2 linked regions of the Homo sapiens genome follow. The protein of the gene in region 1 purifies or fractionates together with the protein of each later gene. This does not show direct contact. Each region holds a gene or a part of one and is shown on either strand. Other genes may lie near its edges.

Region 1 (8,665 bases):
TTTTCCAGTCATCACCAGGTCTAGAGAGAATACAGTAAACTTGAAGTATCAAAATTCATAGCATCCTAACAAAGATGATTCATCTCAATTATAATTAAGTGTTAAAAAAGCACAGTAAGTTTAATATATTCCATTTAATATATCTAACAAGATAATTAAACAACTTTAGAAAAAGTGTTCTTATAGAGAATCTCAGGAGGATAAAAAAATCAAGAACAGAAGGGATTAAGGCATCCATCCTCTTAAGCAATATTGTATACAGTGTAACTGTTGTCAAAAGGTGTTTTGTTTGACCTACACAGCATGTGTTTTAATTTAAATGAGTTTAAATTAGTTCTCAACATTTAAAAACTGTAAGATTTTATATATCTTATATAACTCCTGGGCTCAAGAAATCCACCTGCCTCGGCCTCCCAAAGTGATAGGATTATAGGTGTGAGCCACCATGGCCGGCTATTCTCATTTTTAAAATAGGTTAACAGGCCAGGCGTGGTGGCTCCCATCAGTAATCCCAGCACTTTGGGAGGCCAAGGTGGGCGGATCACTTGAGGTCAGGAGTTCGAGACCAGCCTGGCCAATATGGTGAAACCCCACCTCTACTGAAAATACAAAAATTAGCCAGGCATGGTGGGACACAACTGTAGTCCCAGCTACTCGGGAGGCTGAGGCAGGGGAATCACTTGAACCTGGGAGGCGGACACTGCAGTGAGCCAAGCTCACGACACTGCACTCCAGCCTGAGTGACAGAGGGAGACTCTGTCTCAAAAATAAATAAGGTGGGCGCACACCTGTAATCCCAACACTTTGGGAGGCCAAGGCAAGCGGATCACCTGAGGTCAGGAGTTCGAGAGTAGCCTGGCCAATACGGTGAAACCCACTCTCTACCAAAAATACAAAAATTAGCCAGCCATGGTGGCATGTGCCTGTAATCCCAGCTACTCAAGAGGCTGAGGCAGGAGAATTGCTTGAACCCGGGAGCCAAGATCCTGCGCCAGAGCAAGGCTCCGTTCCAAATAAATAAATAAAACAAAATAGGTTAACAGTTACATCAAACAATTGATATAATGCACTCAGCACAGTGCCTGGCAAAATAATAGCACAGTATTAGCCAATGAGCATCTCTTAATCTTTCTTTTTTATTGGAAATGCTAGAAATCATGAAAGAGAATAAAAACAAGGAGAATATAAATAAACTCTCTTTTTGGCCAGGTAAAAACCTCAAGTAATAAATACTCAAAGCATCTTTAAAAAAAAAAAAAAGATCAGGGAACATCTGCAGACAAAGTATTTAACTGTGACATCTTCGAAAAAGTTTTCACTGCAGCTGTTCTTACATAACCAGAGTCCCCAAAACATCTCAAATGCTCCATTCACAGACAAAAAGACCACTTATTTTACTTAAAACTAGGTCCTACATAATGCATACTCTAACATTGGTAACTTTTTGCTACCAATTCCAAGACTACTACTGTACTAAAGCCTTTTTTTTTTTTTTCTGAGATGGAGTCTTGCTATGTCACCCAGGCTAGAGTGCAGTGGCATGATCTCGGCTTACTGCAACCTCCACCTCCCGGGGTTCAAGCAATTCTCCTGCCTCAGCCTCCAGAGCAGCTGGGATTACAGGAGCTTGCCACTACACCTGGCTAGTTTTTGTATTTTTAGTAGAGACGGGGATTCAGCTGGTCTCAAACTCCTGACCTCGTGATCCTCCTGCCTTGGCCTCCCAAAGTGCTGGGATTACAGGCGTGAGCCACCTCACCCGGCCTACTAAAGCCTTTCATCTAAGCCTGTATCATCGAAGTTTCTGATGTCAGTTTGACATACCGTTGAATTCAACAAAATAGTGAATAATAATGCGTAAGATACAATGCAAAACCTGACCACAAGAAATTTATAATCTTATGAGATGAAAAAACTATTTAAAATGAGAAAGTAAGTGACGGAGGTTAAGTATTAGAAGTGTTCTGAGACACTTGATGGGATCTAGAGGACTTCATGGAAGAGAGGGCAGAGAAAATGAGATTTGAAGAACCGCAGAACTGAAAAGAAACCATTAATCGTAGGAAAACCAGAAAAGAAAAATCAAAATCCACTGTTGTCCCCAAATCAGAATTTATTTTTTATTTCTTTGAGATGGGGTCTTACCCTGTCACCCAGGCTTGAGTGCAGTGGTGCGATCATAGCTCACTGCAGCCTTTATTATTTGTAGAGACAGGGTCTTGCTATGTTGCCCAGGTTAGTCTCAAACTCCTGGCCTCAAGTGATCTTCCCACCTCAGCCTCCCAAAGTGATGGGATGAACGGCATGAGCCATCATATCCAGCCCCAGAATTTTTTAAATAGAAAATATTCTCATAGGCCAGGTGCAGTGGCTCACGCCTGTAATCCCAGCACTCTGGGAGGCCGAGGCAGGCAGATCACCTGAGGTCAGGAATTCAAGCCTAGCCTGCAAACATGATGAAATCTCATCTCTACTAAAAATACAAAAATTAGCCAGACGTGATGGTGGACACCTGTAATCCCAGCTACTTGGGAGGCAGAGGCAGGAGAATGGCTTGAACTGAACCCAGGAGGTGCAGGTTGCAGTGAGTCGAGATCACACCATTGCACTCTAGCCTGGGCAACAGAGTGAGTGAGAGTCCATCTCAAAAAAAAAAAAAATTAAAAATAGGCTGGGCGCAGTGGCTCACATGTGTAATCCCAGCACTGTGAGAGGTCGAGGTGGGCAGATCACTTGAGCTCAGGAGTTCCAGACCAGCCTGGGCAACATGACAAAACGCCGTCGCTACTGGTGCATGCCAGTAGTCCCCACTATTTGTAGGGCTGAGGCAGGAGGATCACTTGAGCCTGGGAAGTTGAGGCTGCAGTGAGCCATGATCGTGCCACCATACTCCAGCCTAGGCAACAAAGTGAGACCCTGTCTCAAAAAAAAAAAAAAAAGTTATAAAAAAAATTAAAAATAGTCTAAATTTTGCTAACCTACTTACATTCTGCCAAGACAAACTACAACTGAAGTAGTATTCATTTCTATACCAATTAAAGCATTCACCTTAAAAATAACAGAATATACACTAATACCAATTCTCCCAATGACCTAACCAATTCTGCTGAAAATTAGTTCTTAGAGGTCCTAGTGAACCACATACGGTAACTATATGACAGTCTGGTAGCTTGTATAAGCTATTTTTCTGTAGGAAGTGAAAAGATCTAGGTTGTAATAAAACATATACCTCAGTTCAGTAACCCAGTGTCAACATCTTATAAAGATTCCCAGGGTTAAATTATTTTATATGGCAAGTTTTTTTTTTTTTTTGAGATGGAGTATTTCTCTGTTGCCCAGGCTGGAGTGCAGTGACACGATCTTGGCTCTCTGCAACCTCCACCTCTCGGGTTCAAGTGATTCTCCCGCCTCAGCCTCCTGAGTAGCTGGGATTACAGGCGCATGCCATCACACCCAGCTGATTTTTGTATTTTTAGTAAAGACAGGGTTTCACCATGTTGGTCAGGCTGGCCTCAAACTTTTGACCTCGTGATCTACCTGCCTCAGCCTCCCAAAGTGCTGGGATTAAAGGCGTGAGCTACCGCACCTGGCCTTTTTTTTTTTTGAGATGGAGTTTCGCTCTTGTTGCCCAAGCTGGAGTGCAATGGTGCAATCTCGGCTCACTGCAACTCCGCCTCCCGGGTTTAAGTGATTCTCCTGCCTCAGCCTCCCAAGTAGCATTATGGGCATGTGCCACCACGCCCAGCTAATTTTGTACTTTTAGTAGAGACGGGGTTTATTTTTAGTAGAGACAAGGTTTCTCCATGTTTGTCAGGCTGGTCTCGAACTCCCGACCTCAGGTGATCCGCCCACCTTGGCCTCCCAATGTGCTTGGACTACAGGCGTGTGCCACTGCACCCGGACCTATATGGCAAGTTCTTAACAAAAGCCAAACATCAACTGGAGTCAAGAATCTTAAATGTTAATTTCCTATAACTGAATCTTTAAAGTGATGGTTACCATTCAAATATTGTAATTTAAACTATGCACTTAAAAGTAACAAATAGCCTACATACTTTCAGCTTTAAAAGAAAAAATATCCTCTAGTAAGAGGAGGCTCTTCAATTTTAAGGTTAACAAAAGGTTTCTGAGACTGTTCAGAACTGTGTTCTGTGAGTTCAAAATTCTTAGTTCCCTTTTTATATGTAAAAGGAGGAAAAAAATTAAAAATTTTTTTTTTGGGTAGAGACAGAGTCTCATTATGTTGCCTAGGCTGGTCTCAAACTCCTGGACTCAAGTGATCCTCCCACATTGGCCTCCCCAAAGTACAGGGATTACAGGCATGAGTCACCTCAACCAGCCAACTTTTTTTTTTTTTTAAAGTAAAAAAGCTAAGTTCCATAAGCTAAAAAAAGTTACGAGAAAATTTTCTGAGTGAATAATGCTTGGAGTTCAGAAGGCTGGGCAAGTCTTTAAAGACTCTAAAGACTCAGACTGAGTCTTTAAATTTAATACATAAAGTTGGCTTTATCTGCTGTTTAACTAGGGTAAGGTGCAGTCGTAAAAAAACTATACTGACAAAAACGAGATGACTAATAATTTTATTCATTTACAACAAACTAAGCTAATAACTTTTACACTAATTATGAAAGCCAGAAATGTTTCCAAAAACCATTTATACAAAATTTGTGTGTATCATCTGACCTCAGGATGACTACTTGCTGAACAAATTATGGCAGAAATATATTATTCTATTGCAAATACCTACTGGCCATAAAACAAAGTCATCTGTCCTCTATTTGGAATCAAAATGGTTAAATTAAGGCATAAGTATTAATAGTCAACACCAAAGTAACACAAATCTTGGTTCCCCACAAGTGTTTATTAATAATTTACTCTAACACTTACTTAATAGTGGTGGTCATACTCTGTGCTTGCTGCTGAGTGCCATTATTGATTGTGTTGGTGTTTTTCAGCTGGTTCATCTGTTGCTGTGTCTGTGTGCCCCCTCCTCCAGGGCCACCAGTGGGTTTCACAGGGCCTCTCAGCTGACCATTTTGACTGGACAGACCCATTATAACAGGGTTCTCTGTTCTGGCCGTGCTCATGCTGTTTTAATTGCAAAGGTCTTTCAAACTTCAAAACTTTTGAAAGTCAGTAGAGAAACTGTAATAACAGTTTATTAGGCTCTCCAAAATGAAGAGATAAATATAAGTCTTGCTCAATAAATGAGTCCTTTATTGCAATGCAGGCAAGCACCTGTAAGTCTCTGAACGGTAAGCAGCAGTAACTTGCTCTCTTGCACGGAATCAACTTTTTATTTTTAAAAAGCCCTCTAACAAGCTTGAGTTATATCTGAATTCACTCACGTCAATCTGAAACAAACAAACAAAATTAAATTAGCAAACACAACAGAAAAACTTTGTTTCCCTTTTAAAAGAACCCCTTTAAAAGAATTCTCATCTTTTATATTAAAGAATTAATAATACAGCTACACTTAGACCAAATCACGAGCCAAGCTAGGATAGACACAACTTTGAACTATCTCAAAAACACAATGAGGCCAATATCAAACATTTAAAATTGTTAATTCAAAGCAATCCAGAGATTAAGTAGAAAGAGACTAGTAAATTAGCACTACTCGTCAATGATAATCTCTTCTCTTCAGTTTCCTCCCCATGAATTCTCTAAGTCTCTGACATCTCTAAAAGTCAGTGATTCATTATACTTAATTGCATTACAACTCACTGAAGTATCACACAATTTAAACAAGACAATTCATTAATTTTCTTCTACTTGTAATAGCAACCGAGAGTCCTTATAGATTTAAGTGAGCTTTTGACTTGAACTTCACACTTCCAGAAAAAAACACCTTTGTGCCCTTACAAATTTCAACTATTAAACTTTATGGGCTGGGTGCTGGTGGCTCAGGCCTGTAATCGCAGCACTTTGAGAGGCCAATGCGGGCGATCTCTTGAGGTCAGGAGTTAGAGACCAGCCTGGACAACATAGCGAAACCCCATCTCTACTAAAAATACAAAATTTAGGCCGGGTGCAGTGGCTCATGCCTGTAATCCCAGCACTTTAGGAGGCCGAGGAAGGTGGATCATGAGGTCAGGAGTTCAGGATCAGCCTGGCCAAGATGGTGAAACCCTGTCTCTACTAAAAATACAAAAATTAGCCAGGCGTGGTGGCGAGCGCCTGTAATTCCAGCTACTTGGGAGGCTGAGGCAGAGAACTGCTTGAACCCAGGAGGCGGAGGTTGCAGTGAGCCAAGATTGTGCCACTGCACTCCAGCCTCAGCGACAGAGCCAGACTCCGTCTCAAAAACAAAAACAAACAAGAAAAAAAAAACAAAAAACAAAATTTAGCCGGGCATGGTGGTGCACACCTGTAATGGAGTCCCAGCTACTTGGGAGGCTGAAGCACGAGAATCGCTTGAACCTGGCAGACGGAGGCTGCAGTGAGCCAGGTGACAGAGACCTTGTCTCAAAAAACAACAAAAAACTTTAAGAAGAAAAATGTATTTTCTTTTTTCCTTTTTGTCCTTTAAAACAATAAATGAAGCAGTCAAGAGAATAGTGTATTTCTGCCATAATGCATCCAGCAAGTAATGATCCCAAGGACGGATGATATACACAAATTTTGTATAAATGAATTTTTATTTTGAAATTGACAAAACCAAGATGACTCTAATAATTTTATTCATTTATAACAAACTTAGCTAATAACTATTCTAATTTTAAATTTAAAAAAACAGGAAAATTCCTGTTTAAAAAAAAATCCGCGGAAGACTAAACACACTAGTAATTTTAAGAAAACTTTCCAAGAAATCCAGAGTAGTAAAGCTAATTAATAGTTTAAAAAAAAAAAAAAGAACTGGTAGGAGGGGCACGGTAGCTCACGCCTGTAATCCCAACACTTTGGGAGGCCAAGACTGGTGGATCACCTGAGGTCAGGAGTTCAAGACCACCTGACCAACACGGTGAAACTCCGTTCCACTAAAATACAAAAATTAACTGGGCGTGGTGGCCCTGTAATCTCAGCTACTTAGGAGGCTGAGGCAGCAGAATCACTTGAACCCAGGAGGTGGAGGCTGCAGTGAGTCCAGATCATGCCATTGTACTCCAGCCTGGGCAACAAGAGCAATACTCTGACTTAAAAACAAACAAAGCAAACAAACAAACAAAACCCACAAAACTAGTCAACCTCAGTTTAAAATTATCCCGTAAATGGAAATCTTACTTACTTTTATTTTTTATTGTATTTTTTGAGACAGAATCTTGCACTGTCACCCAGGCTGGAGTGCAATGGCGCGCTCTCAGCTCACTGCAAGCTCCGCCTCCTGGGTTCACGCCATTCTCCTGCCTCAGCCTCCTGAGTAGCTGGGATTACGGGCATGCGCCACCATGCCCAGCTAATTTTTGTATTTTTAGTAAAGACGGGGTTTCGACATGTTGGCCAGGCTGGTCTTGAACAACTGAGCTCAGGTGATCCGCCCGCCTCGGCCTCCCAAAGTGCTGGGATTACAGACGTAAGCCACCACGCCCGGCCTATTATTTTTGAGACAGAGTCTCACTCTGTTGCCCAGAGTGGAGTGCAGTAGCCCGATCTCAGCTCACTGCAACCTCCACCACGCAGGTTCAAGCGATCCTCATGCCTTAGCCTCCCAAGTAGCTTGGTGGGATTACAGGTCTGGCTAATTTCTGTATTTTTCAGTAGACACGGGGTGTTATCAAGTTGGCCAGGCTGGTCTTGGACTCCTAACCTCAAATGATCTGCCCGCCTTAGCCTCCTAAAGTGCTAGGATTACAGGCGAGAGCCACCGTGCCCGGCTGAAATCTTACTTTTAATTGGAGTTAATAAAAACATACAAAGACACGAAAACAAAGCCCTACTCTGTTGGCTTTTGATTTAACCCCGTTACACTTTTTTTTTTTTTTTTTTTTTGAGGCGGAGTCTCGCTCTGCCGCCCAGGTTGGAGTGCAGTGGCACAATCTTGGCTCACTGCAACCGCCGCCTCCTGGGTTCAAGCGATTCCCCTGTCTCAGCCTCCCGAGTAGCTGGGATTACAGGCGCCTGCCACCACGCGCAGCTAAATTTTTTCTATTTTTAGTAGAGACGGGGTTTTGCCATGTTGGCCAGGCTAGTATCGAACTCCTGACCTCAGCTGATCCGCCTGTCTTGGCCTCCCAAAGTGCTGGGATTACAGGTGTGAGCCACCGCTCCCAGCAACCCCGTTACATTTCTTATATAAAATACACTAGCTTACGAGTGCTGATTCTTTCTGCCATACACCAAGGCATGTGAAACTCAAAATTTTAAAGTCAACAGATCTCAACATTTATGAAGAAAATGCTCCTTGATTATGCCTTCCTTAAAAAAAAAATGAACAAGTTGCTCACAAGCAAATCCTGATTATCACATACACAAAGCTGTTTACTTCAGACTCTGACCTCTTAAGCAGATATGGTTAACAGCTACTTTCCTGTATTGACGGTTTTATATTATGATCAGCGATATCACGCAGTTCACAGAGACTTAGCTGTTTGCAGAGCACTAAGAGGATGAAAAGGGCAACCTCTAAAGACCGAACGATATCATCATTACTGTCCATCATGCACAGTAAGACCTCCTATATCCTTAAATCCAAAATGAGACTATGTGATAACTGCTCCCTTCTTAA
Region 2 (8,665 bases), on another chromosome or scaffold:
AATTCTTCACATATTTGACCCTTTGGAAAAAAATCATTATCAATGTCACAAACTTAGTTTTCGGTTTGTTTTTCTTTTTACTTTTTATCAGCTGAATTTAAGATTAGTCAGTAAAGACTTTTTAAAAAATTAAAGCACACAAAAGATAACAAACACCTCAGAAACTTTAAAATTTTTTATTCAACAATGTACACTTATTGTCTCTCAATTTGATCTACAAATTTCTCAAGTTTTTTTTCTGATAAAATAAGTAAATCTGGGTATGGTTGTAGAGTGTTTGTAATTTATATTTTTAAAACACTGAACATGATGAAGACATCAATAAAGGAAGATCATCACGTAAATGACACTTCCTCAGAATCCATGACATCAGAAACAGCTATAGCAAATACCTAAGCATTTAGCAAAAGGGAAAATTTCTGGTGACTGTTCTTATATGTAGAAAAGACCTATATTTTTGACTGGGCAAAACAAACATTGAAACTTTTTTTTGAGCGGGGGGAACATCCTTTAACATAACTGTACTCCACTTATTATCCATTCCCCCAGATTAAGAGGTAACTCAGCTCCTTAGTGCCTCTGCACGAGACAGAGAAATTACTTCACTCCTCCAGTAGGTTCTAAGACTGAACATAAGTGAACTACTGACAGATGCGGAAGAGGAACCATAGCCATCTAAAATGATGCTTGCTACACTCCTGCATTTCTGCCTTTTAAGGCCATGCAATTAATATGGGTCACCTTTTAAGTCTTAACTGGATAACTTAGTTTTTAACTGCCACTATCAATGAAGATACATATAGAAGGGTTTTGCTGTGTCCTCAAAGGCAACAATATACTTGATGAAGAAGTAACCCTCTTCTGTATATTGAAAAAGCTATAAAATGGAAATATTTATTTTTTATGTAGGAGCATGGGGAAAATGCTATCAGTAATATCTTCTACTTAAACATATTAGCCTCTCCTACAAAGGTCCTGAACCAATTAAAAAAAAAAAAACTTTAAAAAAGATGATTTGACAAAACCTGGGTAGTAGTACATCTACACATTATAAGTACACATACACAAAGTAAAGCTATTTAGTACATACAGATTGCAGCACTTGAACCAAATGTACCCAACTCCTAAACTTGTTCTAATCAGCTTGGGCAATTTTTTAAAAGATACACGTTATCTTTAAAACAACCAGTGCTTTGATCTTACAAACAACTGAATAATTCTAATCTCAAGCCAGTCAATTCAGTAAACCAAATTTATGCTAAAGCAATAAAGGTAAAAGCCTATCCTACCTTTAAACCAGCTTTAAGACAAAAAATCGTCACCAAGTTCCATATGACAAAAAAGGGTCTTTCAGTTTGAATTACTTTCCATTTCTATTTGATCAAATAAACCAAAATATTACTAAGGAAGAGCATCCAATGATTTGTAAAGCTGATAAAACTGCCCTGTTTCAAGAAAAGCTCTTTAATAGATACAAGTCAAGCTCTCGTTTAAATTGAACTTTATTAAAATAGGTGCCAGTTTTCCTCTCTCCTAGTTCCACTGATGAGCTAGCCCAGAACTATGTAACTTTGAGCCAAGTTTCCAAAGATGGTAAAGCTAACAACAGCAAAGTAGTAAGGACAAATCGGTCACTTTTGGTAATGACACACAAATTAAACTTTCAAAACATGTGCATAGCTTTATTCATCTACTTAGATCTAACCTTTTCACGGAGCTTCGGCAAAATTCGAGTGTGCAAAATGCATTTCTAAAACGTAATGCAAGCAAAGCTTTCACATTTACACTGGCAGGAAATACAGAGAGAAACTAACAAGTCACATTAGGGAAAATTCAGATCTTTTTTTTTTTTAATGACAAGAATTGCACAGTTTATTATTTTGAGACAATTGTTGCAGACATAAATATTTAAAATTTTCTAAGCAAGGTGCTTTTAACAAAATTTTTAAAGTTGGAAAGAGCTGATAACTTGGATCATAGCTCACACAGAATTCCAAATTAAAGTGGACTCCATTATCTCCCTATATTTTGCAAACAATGCTTTGTATAACACTTCTTTAAAACACTAAAAGAGACAGCAAGCTGAAACTTTTTTCAAAGCACACAAGAAATGTTTACTTGAAGAAGGTGCTGAGGGGAGAAGGGAGTGAAGAATCCTTTTACTATTTCCCACTACAGGACAGCCACTAACAGACTAAGAACAAAAAAGATACAACAAAAAAAGTAAATCACTTCCCCAGCTTATAAAATAGTTCCAGTTTCGCAAGATCTGTAACTTTAAACAGAGAGCACCAGTTGGGCAATAGAATGAGCATTTCATACTGCATAAAAATTAGTGAGGTGGTAAGAACCATCGACTATCTCAGGCATTACTACATGGCGTTTCCAATTTTTTTTTTTTAATATACATGCAAGGCACATTGATATAAAAATAGATCTCTGGCCAACAAATATATTAAATAAGCAAATTAAAATTTTGGCTTTGCGATATTGGCAACATCAAAATATAACCAGATAGCTTTGGCCCACACATCTTTCTCATTCCTCCACCTCATTTGGTGTTTCCCACCCATTATTTTGGGTTCAATCACCTTCAAGTTTGGGTATGTGCTTGAGAAATGACTTTTCTTCTTGTCAAGTAGCATTCACTAAAGTTTTCCTTTGCTAAGTAAAAAGACAAGAGAAACAGCTGGAGTTTTGATTGATTTGATTTAAACTAAATCTGATTGGTTCAGGGCAGCACTATTTCCCCTCTATATACAAACAAAAAATAAGTCCCCAGCTTACATAGACAAATGTTTTCTAAAAGATCAGCAACAAATCAATGACACCACGTCCTTTAAGCCATTCTTCCCAATTCCTCTTTCTGAGGCAGAGAGAGGGAATAATAGAAACAAAGCTAAGATTTAAACTATTTTCAGTAGTAGAAGACATTTAAGGCCAAAAAGTGTACTATTAACAGAATTCTTATATTCCTAAGTTATTGTCCTTCATAGGACAATATCAGCTAAGAATTAGTTACTTGTATTGATTCCCTCCCAAAAAGAATTTTATAATTCATTCACTCTTGTTAGTGGCTGTGCTACAGGAAAGGTATCAAAGCAACCTATGGTATATGTATGGTATATAGTAATGTAAAAAGTGCATCACATTCTTGATTTTCAGTTTCTCATAGCAGCAGGATTAATCTAAGACAGAAAACAGTTGTATTTTCATTCTTAAAATGCAACAATATCTAATGAAATGTATTCAAGATCATGAAAGGATCCTCCTCTATGAAGGATAAATGAAAACAGATTAATAATAGACAAACAGGGTAAACTAAAGGCATTCATTCATATTTACATATTAAAACCACTTTTGTTAACACCAAATCTTTACATCTAGCAAAAGAAATAAGCATTTTAAGAATAAAGCAGACATCACTAAAGCAGTATCCATTTTCAGAGCCTTTGATTAGCACCTGAGGAAAAAAGGGTACATGGAAAGCTATGTAATTTGCCCTCAAGTTAATTTGTTGGTCTGAAGAGTACAACAACTTTGATATGCACTGAAAGTAAAACTAAATTGGAAAATAAATGTTTGTAGTTAGTTTAATAAGGCTGTAGAAAAGAGATACTTGGCCGGGCACGGTGGCTCACACCTGTAATTCCAGCACTTTGGGAGGCTGAGGCGGGCAGATTGCCTGAGGTCAGGAGTTCGAGACCAGTCTGGTCAACATGGTGAAACCCCGTCTCTACTAAGAATACAAATTAGCCAGGTGTGGTGGTGTGCGCCCGTAATCCCAGCTACATGGGAGGCTGAGGCAGGGGAATTGCTTGAACCAGGGAGGTGGAGGTTGCAGTGAGCCAAGATTGCGCCACTGTACTCCAGCCTGGGCAACAGACAGTCCGTCTCAAAAAAAAAAAGGTGGGGGGGGGGGGGATACTGCAGTATTATAAAATGGCTTTAGAACTCTGCACATAACAAAATTGTATGGAAAATAGGGAAGTCTGAATCAGCAATCCCATCACATATGAGGACGGCCATTCCATAGTTTCTAGCCCATAACTGATTTACCATTCCCAATAATGCAAGAGCAACATACCAATCATGCTGCAATGGGTGTTTTTATTATGCAGACAACCGAAAATTCTATTCGCACTATTGCTGGCATCCTTTAACTACTTTAAGACCTTTCTTGAGCGGCAAAACAGTGTGAAATTTAAAACTCAGTAAAGCAATGCTTTTGAGTGGAGCCAATGATTCATCACTCTCCCAGGTGGTCCTGGTTCTCACACAGGTGATGTATATTTTAAAAGAAACATTTTAAGATACCAAAACAGAAGCCCACCCTTTTCACCATGAAAGAATCTTGGTGCTCTGTTGATTAATTACATTAGTAAAAATAACATCGATATTAAGAACTAATGTTAAGCTATGTGCCTCTGGCAAACCTAAAGCAGCTATTTATGCTTCTAGTCTTTTCCTCTGCCTCTCCCTTTTAAACAAATTATCAAAATTTTGTGGCGGGTAAGGGGACAAGAGCAAATCCTACGTTTTCCTTTCAAATCCAACAGTTAAGTCATGGGTAGGGTTATTAAGATACTGCCCTATCAGACTCTACCTTGACTGGTGTGGCATCAACCAATCTGACCATAATGACCATTATATTTGTCCCATAACATAACTGTTCTGCACAGTTAACATATTTATACAAGAGGGATCAGCTGTTGTTGAGGATGTGGCCCAGCGGCATAACTATACTAATAATACCTGGAAATTGGACTTTTAATCTATTTCTCTGAAGAGAGCCTTGTAGGAATGACTCCGTCCTTATTTACAGTGGAATTAAAATTGAGTAAAGTCCATTTCCAATAGCCATTTGATACATGACAATTTCACACTAAATGGCTTATTTAAAAAAGTTCACAGCAATTACAAAAGATAAATCATTAGATGCCTCTGATGTGGGGAAGCAACAAGCCTAACAACCAAGTATGATATTATCACTATGTAATGTTTTTTCAAAATTTTGTATTGTGGACAACTCCCATAGTTGAGGTTTGTCATATTTTCCCTACAAACTGTTATTTGTAAAAACAATGCAGCACTTTTCCTTTATGAAGTTTCTGCAGATTGAGTAATGACTAGGTAAGCAGATGATTAAGGAGGACAACAAAATTCTAAAATGGAGAAACTCTGGCCATTTATTTCAAAGAAAAAAAAATCTGTCATTAAATTCCTAGTTATTGGCTATCCCCTCCTAGAAAGTAGAGGAGGAAGGGCTGGCTACCACAGACGCTGTAAATACACTTTATGTGAAGGTTCATTACTAAGGAGGTTAGAAGAAAGGCTATGTAATTAACTTCAGTTCAGCAAAGTGGGGGTGAATAAAGAGAAAGATAATACACCCTGTGTATTTTGTGGGAAAAGGGGATTATTGAGGACACCTACAAGAGTGGTATGTGACACAGAAGCCTACAATAATCAAAACAGATTTAAAAAGAAATCTTCACCCATAATTAGTATCTTCATAGCTATTAAAAAAATAGGTCATAATTTCATTCTTAGTGCCATTTTTCAATACTACCCTTTTAAGGATTTAAACCACCTGACTTTTTTCTGTGTAATGAAAACAAATGGCACAAAATAAATACAAGTTCATTCTCTGAATACTAATGTCTTATACACATTCATTTACTAATTTTTAATATCTCCATCTTTTCCTCACACACACATACATACATACATAAACACACACACACACACACACCCCTTTTTCAGTCTTTATAATGGAGGGATGTTAAAAATCCCCTCTAGACTGTATTTGGTTTATGCTACAGTACTAATACTCTGAGTTGAAGGAAAATTCTTTATACCAAACAATAACACGTTATTTAAATGTGCTAAATTAATCACAGCTGAAGTTTGTTTAGAAGCTTACACAAAATAATCAGAAAACAGATCAACTCTTAAGATTTTTTTTTAATAAGTGCTCTGTAAGGAATTGTGTGAGGACCTAAGGAGAAAGATTGCAACAAATAGAGTTAAGTGTTACCAAACAGCACAAAGAGATTTGTCCCAAAGTCCTGCTTGTACCTAGGCAATTAAGTCTATTAACCTAATGCCCCCAAAATACTGACAGTTAATATGATGGGGCACTAGGGTTCTCAGAAAGTTAACAGACATTCCTAACTACATACCTCTAACCATATAATCAAGGAAATTTCAGTGGAGAAATCAAAGTGAAATGTTGCATTGTTTCATTTAGAAGTGAGACTCTCAAAAACCTTTGGACAGACAGAGAAGTGATACATTCTTTTTGGCTTCTCTGAACACTGAGGCCTGAGGGATATGGAAGGAAATTAGAAAAGCAATAGCTTTCTAAAGATGTTTAATCAAGTGTTGCTTCTAAGTTAAAAAGCCCAATTCAGGTGGGGTCTGGGTTTGTTTTTTGTTTTTTCCTTTTCAAATATATACTCAATTCAACCTCTGTATGTCACAAACCCAGAAAGTTTCTTGTGAGTTGTGAGACGGAAGAACTTTAAAATTCCAGGCAAGCAAAATGGACATTTAAAAAAGGGGACTAGAGAGGGGAATCTGGCCCTAAGGCGACAAGTGGTTACACAAGGCAATTGAACACACAGCAGAACTTTAAAACCTGTAAAACAAACTGGAGCCTTTTTTCCCTTTAATCAACCTTATATGTCTTTTTTTTTAACTTTTTGAAAATTTTTATTTAAAAAAACACAAAAACACAGACTTTTTTCACTTCAGTTATGTGGTATGTTGCATTTTCCAGTTTGTTCAATGCTTTAAAGCTCAAGGATGCCTCTGCTTTCAATTGTACATGGGCCTGAAGCATCCTAGCTTTTGGCAAGCAGGCAGGAGACTCAACAAAAATCAAAATAGGAACAAGGCAGACTAAATGCAGGGCACATCTGTAAACATATTATACATTTGAAAATTACAATATCAGTCAAAGTGATACAGTTTACAGGTGAAATGAAACTATCTGGAACTGGCCTACCACAAGTTTCTGAACCTGGACTGATACAATAAGTTATTTTATATATATATATATATATTATGTATAAAAAAAAGTTTTGTTTACATCAAGTGGAATTGGCAATCCATGCTTATACTTTTAAAATCTAAGCAGGGCAGAAATCCAGACTAAAAAGATAGTTACTCTACTCTATGTTGAGTCCAACAGCTTCTTTCATGAACTACTTGTTTTAAAAGCCTCAAATAATCAACAAAACAAGAAAACCCATCCATACTACAGTCACTCAAAACTGGACATTTCTAGGGGTAGAGCCAAAGTAGTTACTTTCTCCCCAAATACCCCAGGGGATCCAGTCTACTTTTATCAGAAGACTACAACTCTTTATATAAATGCCCTGATATTTTAACCTGTATTTGACATACATGGATATACTAATTTCTGTGTGTGTGATGTGATGCTGTGTCAGGCCAGACAACTTGTTATTATGTTACTAACATCACCCAATCTCAATTGGACCCTTAATTTCTGCACACACACACAAAAATTTATTTTAGCATGCTATACACAAGCTGCAGTGCAACAGGATGGCAATGTAATGATAAGACAGGGCTAATGCTCTTCTCTGCCCCAAAGAAAATTTCCAGAATTTCACATTATTTTCCTTAAAAACCCATCTTGCTCTAGTAATAAAATATATTTATTAAGATATAATTAGAAGCTAACAAGCTCAGAAGTATAGTTTGCATGAAAACACACCTTCTACAGTCAGGGTTTATTATCTTCTCACTGGCTAAAAACATGAAAAGTTTTAGTTTTCATGGACTTTTTTCTTCCCCTTTTAGATTTTGCTGAGAAATTAAAAGATAATTTACAGAAAGGTCTAAGTTTGTCTTAAATGTTTGATGAAAAACAAGGAAAACAGCACATTTAGTGTTAGTGACGGAGAGCAAGTCTGGAGCACCTACAGTTGAAAAGCAGAATATATTTTTGCTCCCAGTTATACAATTACATTAAAATATGGGCACAGGAATATTTTTCCAGATTGTATATCTAAGCCAATTGCTTGTTCTGCAACTTTTCTTTAAATGACACGCATAGATTCTTCAGTTGTTAAAGTCCAATATGTAACCGAAGCCAAGTTAACTATGTACCATCAACTAACTATTCCAGAATTGTAGAACTTCAATGCCCTCCCCTATCCCCGCCCCACAAAAAATAAATGGAAAGAAATAAAGTATTTCCCCAACACCCCAGAGGCCGCTTAACTCCTGGCAAGACATGCAAATCATATTCGCTAAAAAAATACACCCTGCTAACTTCAAGGCATTTATCCAGCATTCTCGCAGGGCTTAATTAAAGTAAAACCAAAAAGATCAAGGGAGGAGTGGGGGGAAAATGTTGAATCATTCTGGGTTCCCCGTGATTAGTGTATCACTTCAGTCACAGAACAAGATACAGAGATCTTTTAAGTGGATTTGCCTTTCCAGTGGGTCATTTGTTGCCCAAGTTGATGACAGCAGGAACTTTAGAACCACACTTGTTAAGTCTGTATTCATTAATCACTTGCATTCACACTTAAAAACAAAAACTAACAGAAGAAAAAAAACCTATTCAGTACCGGAGATTAAATAACCATGTGTAGTCTCTTGAAATAAATTTGATTCCTTAAGAAGT

The links. The genes of interacting proteins can lie anywhere in the genome.
Region 2: the proteins of DDX6 (region 1) and NUFIP2 purify together in Homo sapiens (affinity purification with mass spectrometry; 7 studies listed by BioGRID and IntAct, with this or other methods). This does not show direct contact.

Annotation. Positions count from the first base shown.
Region 1 is NC_000011.10:118,781,165-118,789,829, forward strand, and holds part of DDX6 (probable ATP-dependent RNA helicase DDX6), read right to left. Parts: intron 5,355-8,665; 5' UTR 5,088-5,354; coding exon 4,888-5,087; intron 21-4,887; coding exon 1-20.
Region 2 is NC_000017.11:29,255,679-29,264,343, forward strand, and holds the end of NUFIP2 (FMR1-interacting protein NUFIP2), read right to left. Parts: 3' UTR 161-8,665; downstream 1-160. UniProt on the Homo sapiens protein: Binds RNA.